Linked DNA regions of Homo sapiens. The protein of the gene in region 1 binds, or shares a complex with, the protein of each later gene. Each region holds a gene or a part of one and is shown in the gene's direction. Other genes may lie near its edges.

Region 1 (7,235 bases):
CAAGCATTCTGAGCCTTATTCCTAAAATAGGTATGATAATAATACTACCCCCACCTTTTTAGTTTTAGTTAGGAAAAGATTTAGATGTGAGTGACAGAAAACCCAAGACAATGGTGGCTTAAACAAGATAGAATTTTTTTTCCCTCCCCTAAGTCCCGGAAACAGGCAGTCAGGTTTCTATCTTGTTTTTTTTTTCCTATACATGACATTCATTCTCATGTTCACCTCACAATCTAAGATGGCTGCTCCAGCTCTGGCTATCATGCCTTTCTTCCAATCAGCAGCAGAAGAAAGAGGGGCAGGAAAAGGGCAGACTCTATTCCTTCAAGCTCTCTTTCCAGAAATTGCAAACCACTTTGCTTATATCTCTTTGGCTGTAACTTAGTCCCATGGCCACATCTAGCTGTAAGGGAGGCTAATAAAGGAATATCCATATGCTTAGGTCAAATTCAGAGGTTCTACTACTGAGGAAATGAGAACAGATTTTGGGGGGAAATTAGGAGTCTCTGCCACCCTACTGATAATGTTGTAAAGATTAAATGAGATAGTATGTATTCTGTGCTTAGAACATGCCTGATAGATAATACATGCTCAGTATTAGGTCATTGTTTTTATAATTACCCTTGGTATACAGTCATCCATTTTTACTCTGTCATTCTAAATTCTCTCTGTTTATTTGTTCAGCATATATTGAGCATCCCTGATGCTGAATAATGTGCCTCTGTTTAAATCTATCAGTAACTGAAAGAAGGCCATCATCCAAGATAGCCCACCCTTTGTTGAAAAGCTCTAAAAGTTAGGGAAATCTTTATCAGACGGATCCAAAGCTTACCTCTCTTATAATTCATGTCTTAGTCCTGATCCTCCCTTTTGAAAGAATATGAGATGAGCCCATTTCCTCATCTCAATTCTTCAAATAAATAAAGATGGCTATCAAGCCTCCCACATAGTTTTCTTGCTCTAACCATGCATTTCATTAATTCATTATTTATCTAGTACATGGACTGGCAGACTTTTCTGTAAAGAGCCAGATGGCAAATATTTTCGGCTTTGTAGACCATATGGTATTTGTTACCACTTTTCAGCTCTACTATTATAATGCAAAAGCAGCTACAGACATGACATAAATAAATAGATGTGGCTGTGTTCCAATAAAATTTCATTTACAAAAACAGATGGCTTACCAGATTTGGGACTCAGTATGTAGTTTTCCAGCCCTTGATTTAGCCCATGAAAACACCCATCAACAGGATTATTCCTGGCCCATAGTCCCCTCTCCTGAAGCTGAAAACTTACCCTGTCACTCCTGATTCTGCTTATACCTTTCATTTATTTTTCTTGTCTTAATGCTTTGGCTAGAATTTCCAGCAATTCTTGCATCTCCATAGATCGACTTCCTGGCCAGTCATTTCTTTAGTCATATTACCTATCCCCAAATATCTCAAGATTGGACATACTATCTTGACAGGTACCCTCTTGTTCTGCCATATTTTTAGCCCACACAACCTTTGACCTCTCCCAGGCTGGCACTTATCCAATCTCCCCCATAAACCTGTTCACACTAAGAAAAGAAGAATCCCTTTTTCCATCTTTTTCTTCTTCAAACCCACTAGACTATGTTCTTCATTCAGTGCTTTAGGTTATCTTTAGCCAACAGTTGAATGCCACTATAACTCTAAATCTAACCTAACCTAGCCAGCTTCCCTTAAAAACAACCTAGAGCTGACCAAGAGTGAGTAAATAGAAAGTTAACAGTTATTGATGGGTCAGCTGCTGCTGACATACAAAATGTATATATATATTTCATCTCAATATTATAGATGTGGAAAGTATATCTCAAAATTGATAATTTAATCAGCTCAGGATCATGCAGCTTAGATTTAAGGAGTTGATCCCAGATATAGAACTGAAATTAAAATTGGAGTGGACCTAGTGAAGGGTGTGTATCTGGTACAGTAAATTCAATGCCATTTCACTGATACAACAGAGCTGCCAGACCTTGGTTGTTCTTTCTTACCAAGATATTTCAAGGCATAGAATAATAAACATTTGCCTTGAATTTTTGGATTTCAAAGTATTTCCTTCACAACCTGATGGAGTAGGTGATTTTATTTCTATTTTACAGAAGAAGAAATCAAACCCCAAAGTGGTTAAAATTTTTACCTGAGATACCAGACCCCAATGTCTGACTGTTTTCTTTTTATGACTGCCCATATTTGCTCTTCCCTGAAAACTCCACCCCACCTGTTTATCTAACTACTTCCTACTTATCTTTTGAAACTCAACTGAGTTGTCTTCTTGTGAAGGAAACCCTCCCTGGAAATCACTCCCACCCCATCAGCACTGTCTGCTTTAGATGTTCTTCCTCTGTGTTAATGCAGATTATAGCTCTATTTACACTGTACTTTGGTGACTTATCAGATGGTAAGGAAATCCAGGACAAGATCCCTGCCTTATTTAATTGTGTACTCAACAAATATTTGCTGAATAAAGGAATGGTCTGAGATTGAACCAAGTCTAGTGCTCTATAAAGTCTGCTCCCTGTAATGTTGCTCATCCATGATTCATGATAGTAAGCTGGAGGCAAAGCAAAGACCATTGCTTCGATGTCTGTGTATATCCTCAGCCTTCCAGAGACAAAGCCACATATAAGATAAGCTTCTTGGCTGGGCTTGGTGGCTCATGCCTGTAATTCCAGCACTTCGGGAAGCCAAGGTGGGCGGATCACAAGGTCAGGAGATCGAGACCATCCTGGCTAACATGGTGAAACCCCGTCTCCACTAAAAATACAAAAAATTAACTGGGCGTGGTGGCACATGCCTGTAGTCCCAGCTACTCAGGAGGCTGAGGCAGGAGAATCGCTTGAATCCATGAAGTGGAGGTTGTAGTGAGCCAAGATCATGCCACTGCACTCCAGCCTGGCGACAGAGTGAGACTCCATCTCAAAATAAATAAATAAATAAATAAATAAATAAGATAAAAAATAAAAAATGAAAGGCTTCTCCTAGCAGCCATGGGTCTTCATAGCTAGAAGACATCAGAAACCCAAACCCATAGGGCTTCAGACTAGATGGAAGATAAAACAGCATAGTCTATGGCTAAGAGAAGAGATTCTGTAGTCAGTCTTCTTGGATTTGAATCCTGTCTCAATCATTTTCCAGTGGAGGGATCTTTGGCAATTCACTTAGCTTTTCTTTGCTTTGGTTTCTACTCTTTCAAATGTGGATAGCAGAAATTATTTGTATTAGTTATCTATCACTGTGTAGCATATTAGCCCAAAATGTAGTGGCTCAAAGCAATAAACATTTATCATCTCACAGTTTCTGTGGTCAGGAATTTGGGACGAGGCTTATCTGTCTGAGGGTCTGTCATGTGGTTGCAGTCAAGATATAGGTTGCAGATACAATCATCTAAAGCCTTGACTATAGCTGGAGGATCCGCTTCCAAGATGGCGCACTCACATGGGTGTTGTCAAGAGTCCTCCATACTTTCCACAGGGATCTCTTCTTACAATATGGCAGCAGATTACCCCCAGAGCATGCGAGAGAGGAGTAGCAAGGAGGAAGCTCCAATGACTTTCATGACTGATTCTCAGCAGTCATGTACTGTTCCTTCTACCACATTCCATACATTAGAGGGAAGCCACTAAGTATAACCCACATTCAAGGGGCGGGGAATTAGGCTCCACCTTGTGAAGAGAGGAGTATCAAAGAATTTGTGGACATATTTTAAAACCATCACACTATCTTGTAGTATTGAGTGAGAATTACACAAGATAATAATTGCAAAGTGGCCGGGCACAGTGGCTCACACCTGTAATTCCAGCAATTTGGGAGGCTAAGATGGGAGGATCGCTTGAGCCCAGAAATTCAAGACCAGACTGGGCAACATGGTGAATCCCTGTCTTTACAAAAAATACAAAAATTAGCCAAGCGCAGTGCTATAGTCTCAGCTACTTGGGAGGCTGAGGTGGGAGGATCACTTGAACCCAGGCTGGTTTTAAAATATGTCCACAAATTCTTTGATATTTCTCCTTTCAAAAGGTGGACCCTAATTCCCCTCCCCTTGAATGTGGGTTATACTTAGTAATTCCTTCTAACATATAGAATATGATAGAAGGAACAGTATGTGACTGCTGAATCCAGGAGGCAGAGGTTGCAGCAAGCAGTGATTGTGCCATTGCACTTCAGCCTGGTAACAGAATGGGACTCTGTCTCAAAATTATGATGATGATGATGATATTTATAATTATAATAACAACAATAATTACAAAGTCCTTAGAACAGGACCTAAGCATCACCAAAAATGTTTTCCCCTTCTCCTCCTTTGAATTGCTTACCTCATGGGTAAGAAAGGACATATTAGCTGTCAATCTGAAGGCTTTGGCCTGAAAAATCTCTTTAAAAAATAGAGCAGATATTTGAATTCAAGTTAGTGCCATATGCCACTAAAATTATCTATATAATCTTGACCTGAAAAGTTGTTCATGGTGTGCTTTGAATTTTTAAAAGCAGGTACAGAACAGAATGACCAACATTATCTGGTATTTGCATAGTTATACACATATATCTCTATGTATGTTGATGCATAGGGAGTGTTCTGGAAGGAGGTTTCTGAAAGTATTGATAATAGTTATTGCTGTGTGATAGGATTTGTTAGGATGTTGAGCTAGGACACTGCTGCTCTGTGTGGGCTGGTTTATTCCCTGCAAAGAATATGATTTCTAGGGTTTCCAGTGATTTTTCAGAGTAGTTGTAGAGACATGAATATACTGGGAGCCTCTCACCCTTGAGGCTGTGTTTGTGCTTGAGGGAACACATATAGAAGGGATTAAGGGGTAGTTGATGACTCTTTGGGAAAAGAGGGTACGGGAGAAGCAAGGGGAAGAAAGACATCTATTTGTCAAAGAGCAAAGGCAAGGCAAAGCTGGTGTTGGCAGCAGAGCGTGACTGCTGATTAGTTTTCTCGGGAGCAACTGCTTCTCCTGGAAGGGAATGATATGCTCATCATGGGCACCTTCTAGTCCTATAGTGCCTTGTATATCCTTTATAATTGTGTTTCCACATTGGATAGAAATTTTTTTGATTCCCTCTCTCTACTAACAGAGTTACAAGCAGTGCAGGCTTGTTAGTGATAAGTTATTTCAGCTTTATATGCCTGGAAAAGTTTTTACTTAATTTTTATTTGCAGAAGACATTTTTGCTGGGTATAGAATTTGAAGTTGACAGTAGTTTTTCTTTCAGTACTTTAAAGATTTGTCCACTCTCTTCTGGATTGCATTGTTTCTGATTAAAAGTCTGCTGTCATTCTTATCTTTGTGCCTCTTTGCTTAATGTGCCTTATTTCTCTAGCTTCCTTGGCCTCCCTGAAGTCTTAACTATTTCTCTTCTACTCAGGTAAATTGTTGGATTTTATCTGAGTTTCCCTTCCTTGCCTTGTTGCCTGGAAACTTTCTAAGCAGTAAGCTAGGGCATTTATAGGGCTCACTTCTTTTTTTTTTCTTCTTTCAGACATCAATGTCTGTGTTGCTCGTTGTTCAATATCTGAAAACCACTGGGTTTTTTTCTGATTTTCTTTTTAGTTATTTAAGGTGGATGAATAAATCTTGCCCTTGTTACTCCATTTTGGCTGGAAGCAGAAGTTCTGAAACATTAAATAAAAAAAAAATACTAAAAACATAAAAACCAACTTCTGATTGCAAAAAAAAACCTTTTTTCTCAAAATTGTCTGTATCTTAGGATTGTGAGATCATTTTTTTAAAAACTCACTGAGTGCCACAGTGTTTGACATTATCTCTTTTCTTACAGGAAACAGGAATCATTCAAACTGGATTTTAAAATCATTGCAAATCAGTGATGGATCAGAAGTTGCAGAGTGCAATCCCGAGTAAAAGTCTTCAAAAAATTTTGCTTCAGGTAACAGAGGAAGGAAAATTGATCTACCACCTTAAAACCCTGATCTAGAAAAAATATATATTCATGATAGGAAGTTATAACTAAGAAAATTTATTTGCCTCTTAATGCTCCTGAATGAAAGGAATTATCCCTTTGTTCTTTGGGAGGACTTGTGTATCTGAGATTGTTGTAATAATCAGTCATTTTATTAAAACCTTGACATGATCACCAGGGAGGAAAAATAGAGCAATAGTCAAAACCTGTGTGTTAGTCCAAGATGACTTCTGAAGAAATGACAGCTTCTGTTCTCATACCTGTGACTCAGAGAAAAGTGGTTTCTGCCCAGTCGGCTGCAGATGAAAGTAGTGAAAAGGTCTCAGACATCAATATTTCAAAAGCACATACTGTCAGACGAAGTGGGGAGACTTCTCATACCATCTCACAACTGAACAAACTTAAAGAAGAACCTTCTGGAAGCAACTTGCCAAAGATTCTCTCAATAGCGAGGGAGAAAATAGTGAGTGATGAGAACAGTAATGAAAAATGTTGGGAGAAAATCATGCCAGATTCTGCGAAAAACCTTAACATTAACTGCAACAACATATTGAGAAACCATCAGCATGGCCTTCCTCAGAGACAATTTTATGAAATGTACAACTCTGTTGCTGAGGAAGACTTGTGTTTAGAAACTGGAATTCCTTCTCCACTGGAAAGAAAGGTGTTCCCTGGAATTCAACTGGAACTAGACAGACCTTCCATGGGCATTAGTCCTTTAGGAAATCAGTCAGTGATCATAGAGACAGGCAGAGCACACCCTGACAGCAGAAGGGCAGTATTTCATTTTCATTATGAAGTTGACAGAAGAATGTCAGACACTTTCTGTACCCTATCAGAAAACTTAATTTTAGACGATTGTGGAAATTGTGTACCACTACCTGGGGGTGAGGAGAAGCAAAAGAAAAACTATGTGGCATATACCTGTAAACTGATGGAATTGGCCAAAAATTGTGATAATAAGAATGAGCAGCTGCAGTGTGATCATTGTGACACCTTGAATGATAAATACTTTTGCTTTGAAGGCTCTTGTGAGAAGGTTGACATGGTATATTCAGGTGATAGCTTTTGTAGGAAAGACTTTACTGACAGTCAAGCTGCCAAGACCTTTTTGAGCCATTTTGAGGACTTCCCTGATAATTGTGATGATGTAGAAGAAGACGCTTTTAAAAGCAAAAAGGAGCGATCCACTTTGTTAGTCAGGAGATTCTGTAAAAATGACAGAGAAGTTAAGAAATCTGTGTATACTGGAACAAGAGCAATTGTGAGAACTCTGCCTTCTGGCCA
Region 2 (7,124 bases), on another chromosome or scaffold:
TTGCAGTGAGACAAGATCGCGCCACTGTCCTCCAGCCTGGGCAACAGAGCAAGACTCTGTCTCAAAAAAAAAAAAAAAAAAGGCTGGGTGCGGTGGCTCACACCTGTAATCCCAGCACTTTGGGAGGCTGAGGCGGGCAGATCACAAGATCAGGAGATCAAGACCATCCTGGCTAACGAGGTGAAACCCCATCTCTACTAAAGATACAAAAAACATAGTTAGCCAGGCGTGGTGGCGGACGCCTGTAGTCCCAGCTACTTGGGAGGCTGAGGCTGGGGAATGGCATGAACCCAGGAGGTGGAGCTTGCAGTGAGCCAAGATGGCACCACTGCACTCCAGCCTGGGCGACAGAGAGAGACTCCATCTCAAAAAACAAACAAACAAACAAAGATGCAGACATCTGCCTCGGCCCCAGGCCCTGGAATCATGAGCTCCAGGCGTGGAGTGACAAGTGTGCTCGGAGCGTCCAGTGTCCTCCTCCCTGACCACCTTCATGTGTCTTCAGTCTGGACCTGGACTGATCCCCTGACTGCACTCCCCACCCAGCCTTCCCAGATTTATCTTCCTGATGAGACGAGTTCCCTTCGGAGCCCTGTGTGTCTTACTACGTGTTCGGTTGAGGGCCTGCCTCGCCCCAGAGCTGTGGGCTGCACGTGGCCTGCACGTGGCCTGCGTGCTCCTCTGCTGTCCACAGTCGCAGGAGGGGATGCTCAAATATTTGTCGAAGGAATCCGTGAACAGGCAGATGCACATGTAGCCACTTAGAACGTTCTGGCCATGGCTTTTATCTGTTGACCACGTGTGGACACTGAAGATGCATCCTCTCCATCCCGTCTAGAGCTGCCCCTGTGCCAGGCGAGTTGGCCGGCTGTTGACAGAGGTGGTGGGTGGGAGTGTTGGAGCGGGGCAGTGGCTCAGGCTCTGGGTGCCTCACTGGCCTGGTCTGGAAGGTGACCATGCACCAAGGATCAAAGAAGTGAAGCCCAAAGCAGAATCTCATGGAGTTTCCAGCCCAAATCTCCCCCACTGCCTGCCTTTCTCCAGCCAGTGCAAGGCCCCAGGCCTCACAGCAGGACCCCAACACTGCATCCCCCCAAAGACTCTGGCCACCTCCATCCCAGGCCTGCCAGCCTCGAGCCTCATGGAGGGCGTGAGCTGGCGGGGTCACGGGCAGCCCCTGGACACCTATGGGTGACACTAAGGGCTGAGTCAGCTACCCTTGTCTCCTCTGTGCCCAAGAGCCCCAAGCATCAGACTGGTCTGAGCCCCAAGGCCTGGGGGTGCAAGGGGTTGGAGGCTGTGGGATCCAAAGACCCCATTGAACTCCCACCTCAGACACTGCACCTAGTGTTCTCACCCAGGCCTGAACCCATCCACACACTTCACGGCCCTGCTCCCACCCTGTGTCCCCTCTGCAAGCCCCCATGCTCCCCAAATTGGTAACTGGGGGGCCTGTCTCCACACCCCTGCTAGTGCCATTCCCTGGTGGGTAGCCATCACCTCTGGGTCCCCTGCTGCCCTCGCCCCTTCACCATGGGGGCTCGGAAGGCAGAGCCCGCTCCCCTCCTGAGCCCCACCCTGGAACCCTGAGCACCCTGGGTCATTGCCTCTGAGTCTCCCTCAGGGGCAGGGCTTGGGGCCCCTCCTGTCTCCTGACAGGGAGCCCTTTCAGTGCAGGGCCAGGGGGTGGTGGAGGCAAGGGTCCTCAGGGGACCAGATCTGACATGCGGGGCCATCACTGGGTCCCCGATGGCTGTGCTGCTTCGTCCCCGCGCCCACGCCTCGGCGCAGGTTCCCTCCTGGCACCGGTCATAGGGCGAGGCTTGCGGCTCCCACCCCAAGGGTGCGCTCGGCTCTCACCTGAGGGCTCAGCCTAGGTGTCCGGCCCTGGCAGCTCGGCCCTGGGCGCCCTCCACCTCCAGGCGCTGTCTCCTACTCCAGGCTGTTCTTCCGGCCGCCGCGGGGTTGCGGCCTGGGCGCCATAGCAACGGGAGCCAGGCCTCATTTGAATACGCAAATATTTATAAGTCGCCGGGGGCTCGGGTTCCGTGCGGCTGAGCCACGCCCCTTAGCAACGGTCGCTAGGGCGGGGCCACGTGGACTGGCACGTGCGTGGGCGCCCCTGCTGCGGGCGATCCCAGGGGAAGGTGACGCGCCACCAACTCGAGTTGGGTGGGCGCAGGCGCGTCAGGTGCCAGCTTCCTGCGGCTCCGTGCCTGGGCCGTCGCGATGCACGTGTCGCGTTTCCTCGCGATCCTGGCGCTTCCCACGCGGGGCGGGTAAAGGCGGTCTCTGCTGGAGGCTCGCGCCCACCTTTCCCAGGTGGAAGGGTCGCCCCTGGGGCCGAGGCCTGCCGTCCTGACCTTCGGTTGGAAGTGAGGCCGACGGCAAAAGGAAGCACCGGGGGAAGCGCCCCCGAGGACCAGGAAACACACACCGGACGCCGGAGCGCACCCGAGTGCCCGGCCCGCGGGACACGCTGCCGCCCGCCGTCCAGTCGCCGCTTCTCACTCGCGTTCATGCGTGTCCGCCCCGAGCCGAGCTCTGACTGCGACCGCGCGGTGGACGGACGGCAGGCGGGACCCCCGGGACCGCACGTGGGTGGAGCCCCGGGTCAGCAGCGACCGGCGCAGGAGGGCGAGGCGGGCGCTGGACTGGGCAGAGGCAGGGTTTGCCTGACTGTAAAACGCCTTTTTTGTTTTGAGACGAAGTAGCGCTCTGTTGCCCAGTGCAGTGGCGCGATTTCGGCTCACCGCAACATCCGCCTCCCGGGTTCCAGCGATTCTCCTGCCTCAGCCTCCCGAGTAGCTGGGACTACAGGCGCGCGCCACTGCAGCCGACTAATTTTTTGTGTTTTTAGTAGAGACAGGGTTTCATCATGTTGGCCAGGCTGGTCTTGAACTCCTGACCTCAAGTAATCCACCCGCTTAGGCCTCCCGAAGTGCTGGGATTATAGGCGTGAGCCACCGCGCCCGGCCCTTTTTGTTTTTTAATGAGGATGTATTTCTGATTCCTTTGCAATTTTAAAAAATGTTAAAAACATGTCTTTTTGGGTTTGAAAGAGCTAGGATGTGCGTCTATGTGCTTGGGGTGAGCCCTGGGCACTTCGCTCCCCTGTGGCAACTTGTGGGTACGGTTTAACTGGACCACGCTGAGCTTCTGCAGCGTTGGAACCTCAAGTTTGGGGGGACTGGGCGGGCAGGGTCGCCTGCCACGCAGGCCCGAGAAAGAGGAGAGTGGTGGAGGGGGCGTTCTCACGCCTGGCCCCAGGGCACACGGCTGCGCCCGCCGCCCGGAACCCCACCGGGGCTGCAAGCGTCCTCGGGGTGGGTTGCGGTGGGAGTAGGGGAGCTGGGGTGCGTGGTGGTAGGTGGGGTGCGCGGCCGCTCCACCTGCGCGGAAGGGCAGCCGGGCAACCGGACCCCGCGGCCACCCGGGGGCCCCCAGCTCCGAGCATCCCGCCTTGGTCCCGGCGGATCCCAGCCTTTCCCCAGCCCGTAGCCCCGGGACCTCCGCGGTGGGCGGCGCCGCGCTGCCGGCGCAGGGAGGGCCTCTGGTGCACCGGCACCGCTGAGTCGGGTTCTCTCGCCGGCCTGTTCCCGGGAGAGCCCGGGGCCCTGCTCGGAGATGCCGCCCCGGGCCCCCAGACACCGGCTCCCTGGCCTTCCTCGAGCAACCCCGAGCTCGGCTCCGGTCTCCAGCCAAGCCCAACCCCGAGAGGCCGCGGCCCTACTGGCTCCGCCTCCCGCGTTGCTCCCGGAAGCCCCGCCCGACCGCGGCTCCTGACAGACGGGCCGCTCAGCCAACCGGGGTGGGGCGGGGCCCGATGGCGCGCAGCCAATGGTAGGCCGCGCCTGGCAGACGGACGGGCGCGGGGCGGGGCGTGCGCAGGCCCGCCCGAGTCTCCGCCGCCCGTGCCCTGCGCCCGCAACCCGAGCCGCACCCGCCGCGGACGGAGCCCATGCGCGGGGCGAACCGCGCGCCCCCGCCCCCGCCCCGCCCCGGCCTCGGCCCCGGCCCTGGCCCCGGGGGCAGTCGCGCCTGTGAACGGTGAGTGCGGGCAGGGATCGGCCGGGCCGCGCGCCCTCCTCGCCCCCAGGCGGCAGCAATACGCGCGGCGCGGGCCGGGGGCGCGGGGCCGGCGGGCGTAAGCGGCGGCGGCGGCGGCGGCGGCGGGTGGGTGGGGCCGGGCGGGGCCCGCGGGCACAGGTGAGCGGGCGTCGGGGGCTGCGGCGGGCGGGGGCCCCTTCCTCCCTGGGGCCTGCGGGAATCCGGGCCCCACCCGTGGCCTCGCGCTGGGCACGGTCCCCACGCCGGCGTACCCGGGAGCCTCGGGCCCGGCGCCCTCACACCCGGGGGCGTCTGGGAGGAGGCGGCCGCGGCCACGGCACGCCCGGGCACCCCCGATTCAGCATCACAGGTCGCGGACCAGGCCGGGGGCCTCAGCCCCAGTGCCTTTTCCCTCTCCGGGTCTCCCGCGCCGCTTCTCGGCCCCTTCCTGTCGCTCAGTCCCTGCTTCCCAGGAGCTCCTCTGTCTTCTCCAGCTTTCTGTGGCTGAAAGATGCCCCCGGTTCCCCGCCGGGGGTGCGGGGCGCTGCCCGGGTCTGCCCTCCCCTCGGCGGCGCCTAGTACGCAGTAGGCGCTCAGCAAATACTTGTCGGAGGCACCAGCGCCGCGGGGCCTGCAGGCTGGCACTAGCCTGCCCGGGCACGCCGTGGCGCGCTCCGCCGTGGCCAGACCTGTTCTGGAGGACGGTAACCTCAGCCCTCGGGCGCCTCCCTTTAGCCTTTCTGCCGACCCAGCAGCTTCTAATTTGGGTGCGTGGTTGAGAGCGCTCAGCTGTCAGCCCTGCCTTTGAGGGCTGGGTCCCTTTTCCCATCACTGGGTCATTAAGAGCAAGTGGGGGCGAGGCGACAGCCCTCCCGCACGCTGGGTTGCAGCTGCACAGGTAGGCACGCTGCAGTCCTTGCTGCCTGGCGTTGGGGCCCAGGGACCGCTGTGGGTTTGCCCTTCAGATGGCCCTGCCAGCAGCTGCCCTGTGGGGCCTGGGGCTGGGCCTGGGCCTGGCTGAGCAGGGCCCTCCTTGGCAGGTGGGGCAGGAGACCCTGTAGGAGGACCCCGGGCCGCAGGCCCCTGAGGAGCGATGACGGAATATAAGCTGGTGGTGGTGGGCGCCGGCGGTGTGGGCAAGAGTGCGCTGACCATCCAGCTGATCCAGAACCATTTTGTGGACGAATACGACCCCACTATAGAGGTGAGCCTGGCGCCGCCGTCCAGGTGCCAGCAGCTGCTGCGGGCGAGCCCAGGACACAGCCAGGATAGGGCTGGCTGCAGCCCCTGGTCCCCTGCATGGTGCTGTGGCCCTGTCTCCTGCTTCCTCTAGAGGAGGGGAGTCCCTCGTCTCAGCACCCCAGGAGAGGAGGGGGCATGAGGGGCATGAGAGGTACCAGGGAGAGGCTGGCTGTGTGAACTCCCCCCACGGAAGGTCCTGAGGGGGTCCCTGAGCCCTGTCCTCCTGCAGGATTCCTACCGGAAGCAGGTGGTCATTGATGGGGAGACGTGCCTGTTGGACATCCTGGATACCGCCGGCCAGGAGGAGTACAGCGCCATGCGGGACCAGTACATGCGCACCGGGGAGGGCTTCCTGTGTGTGTTTGCCATCAACAACACCAAGTCTTTTGAGGACATCCACCAGTACAGGTGAACCCCGTGAGGCTGGCCCGGGAGCCCACGCCGCACAGGTGGGGCCAGGCCGGCTGCGTCCAGGCAGGGGCCTCCTGTCCTCTCTGCGCATGTCCTGGATGCCGCTGCGCCTGCAGCCCCCGTAGCCAGCTCTCGCTTTCCACCTCTCAGGGAGCAGATCAAACGGGTGAAGGACTCGGATGACGTGCCCATGGTGCTGGTGGGGAACAAGTGTGACCTGGCTGCACGCACTGTGGAATCTCGGCAGGCTCAGGACCTCGCCCGAAGCTACGGCATCCCCTACATCGAGACCTCGGCCAAGACCCGGCAGGTGAGGCAGCTCTCCACCCCACAGCTAGCCAGGGACCCGCCCCGCCCCGCCCCAGCCAGGGAGCAGCACTCACTGACCCTCTCCCTTGACACAGGGCAGCCGCTCTGGCTCTAGCTCCAGCTCCGGGACCCTCTGGGACCCCCCGGGACCCATGTGACCCAGCGGCCCCTCGCGCTGTAAGTCTCCCGGGACGGCAGGGCAGTGAGGGAGGCGAGGGCCGGGGTCTGGGCTCACGCCCTGCAGTCCTGGGCCGACACAGCTCCGGGGAAGGCGGAGGTCCTTGGGGAGAGCTGCCCTGAGCCAGGCCGGAGCGGTGACCCTGGGGCCCGGCCCCTCTTGTCCCCAGAGTGTCCCACGGGCACCTGTTGGTTCTGAGTCTTAGTGGGGCTACTGGGGACACGGGCCGTAGCTGAGTCGAGAGCTGGGTGCAGGGTGGTCAAACCCTGGCCAGACCTGGAGTTCAGGAGGGCCCCGGGCCACCCTGACCTTTGAGGGGCTGCTGTAGCATGATGCGGGTGGCCCTGGGCACTTCGAGATGGCCAGAGTCCAGCTTCCCGTGTGTGTGGTGGGCCTGGGGAAGTGGCTGGTGGAGTCGGGAGCTTCGGGCCAGGCAAGGCTTGATCCCACAGCAGGGAGCCCCTCACCCAGGCAGGCGGCCACAGGCCGGTCCCTCCTGATCCCATCCCTCCTTTCCCAGGGAGTGGAGGATGCCTTCTACACGTTGGTGCGTGAGATCCGGCAGCACAAGCTGCGGAAGCTGAACCCTCCTGATGAGAGTGGCCCCGGCTGCATGAGCTGCAAGTGTGTGCTCTCCTGACGCAGGTGAGGGGGACTCCCAGGGCGGCCGCCACGCCCACCGGATGACCCCGGCTCCCCGCCCCTGCCGGTCTCCTGGCCTGCGGTCAGCAGCCTCCCTTGTGCCCCGCCCAGCACAAGCTCAGGACATGGAGGTGCCGGATGCAGGAAGGAGGTGCAGACGGAAGGAGGAGGAAGGAAGGACGGAAGCAAGGAAGGAAGGAAGGGCTGCTGGAGCCCAGTCACCCCGGGACCGTGGGCCGAGGTGACTGCAGACCCTCCCAGGGAGGCTGTGCACAGACTGTCTTGAACATCC

The links.
Region 2: the proteins of PLCE1 (region 1) and HRAS are in contact, whole or in part, in a crystal structure (PDB 2C5L), measured with the Homo sapiens proteins. Residues at the interface, in NP_057425.3 of Homo sapiens: Phe2138, Pro2146, Glu2147, Gln2148, Pro2149, Arg2150, Thr2151, Val2152, Ile2153, Lys2154, Lys2171, Tyr2174, Ser2175; in NP_001123914.1 of Homo sapiens: Ile24, Gln25, His27, Val29, Glu31, Asp33, Ile36, Glu37, Asp38, Ser39, Tyr40, Arg41, Glu63, Tyr64.

The regions. Positions count from the first base shown.
Region 1 is NC_000010.11:94,024,876-94,032,110, forward strand, and holds part of PLCE1 (1-phosphatidylinositol 4,5-bisphosphate phosphodiesterase epsilon-1), read left to right. Parts: intron 1-5,807; 5' UTR 5,808-6,171; coding exon 6,172-7,235. UniProt on the Homo sapiens protein: The production of the second messenger molecules diacylglycerol (DAG) and inositol 1,4,5-trisphosphate (IP3) is mediated by activated phosphatidylinositol-specific phospholipase C enzymes.
Region 2 is NC_000011.10:532,342-539,465, reverse strand, and holds the start of HRAS (GTPase HRas), read left to right. Parts: upstream 1-3,889; 5' UTR 3,890-4,050; intron 4,051-5,090; 5' UTR 5,091-5,143; coding exon 5,144-5,254; intron 5,255-5,521; coding exon 5,522-5,700; intron 5,701-5,853; coding exon 5,854-6,013; intron 6,014-6,107; coding exon of another isoform or gene 6,108-6,189; intron 6,190-6,710; coding exon 6,711-6,830; 3' UTR 6,831-6,835; exon of another isoform or gene 6,836-6,943; 3' UTR 6,944-7,124. UniProt on the Homo sapiens protein: Involved in the activation of Ras protein signal transduction. Ras proteins bind GDP/GTP and possess intrinsic GTPase activity.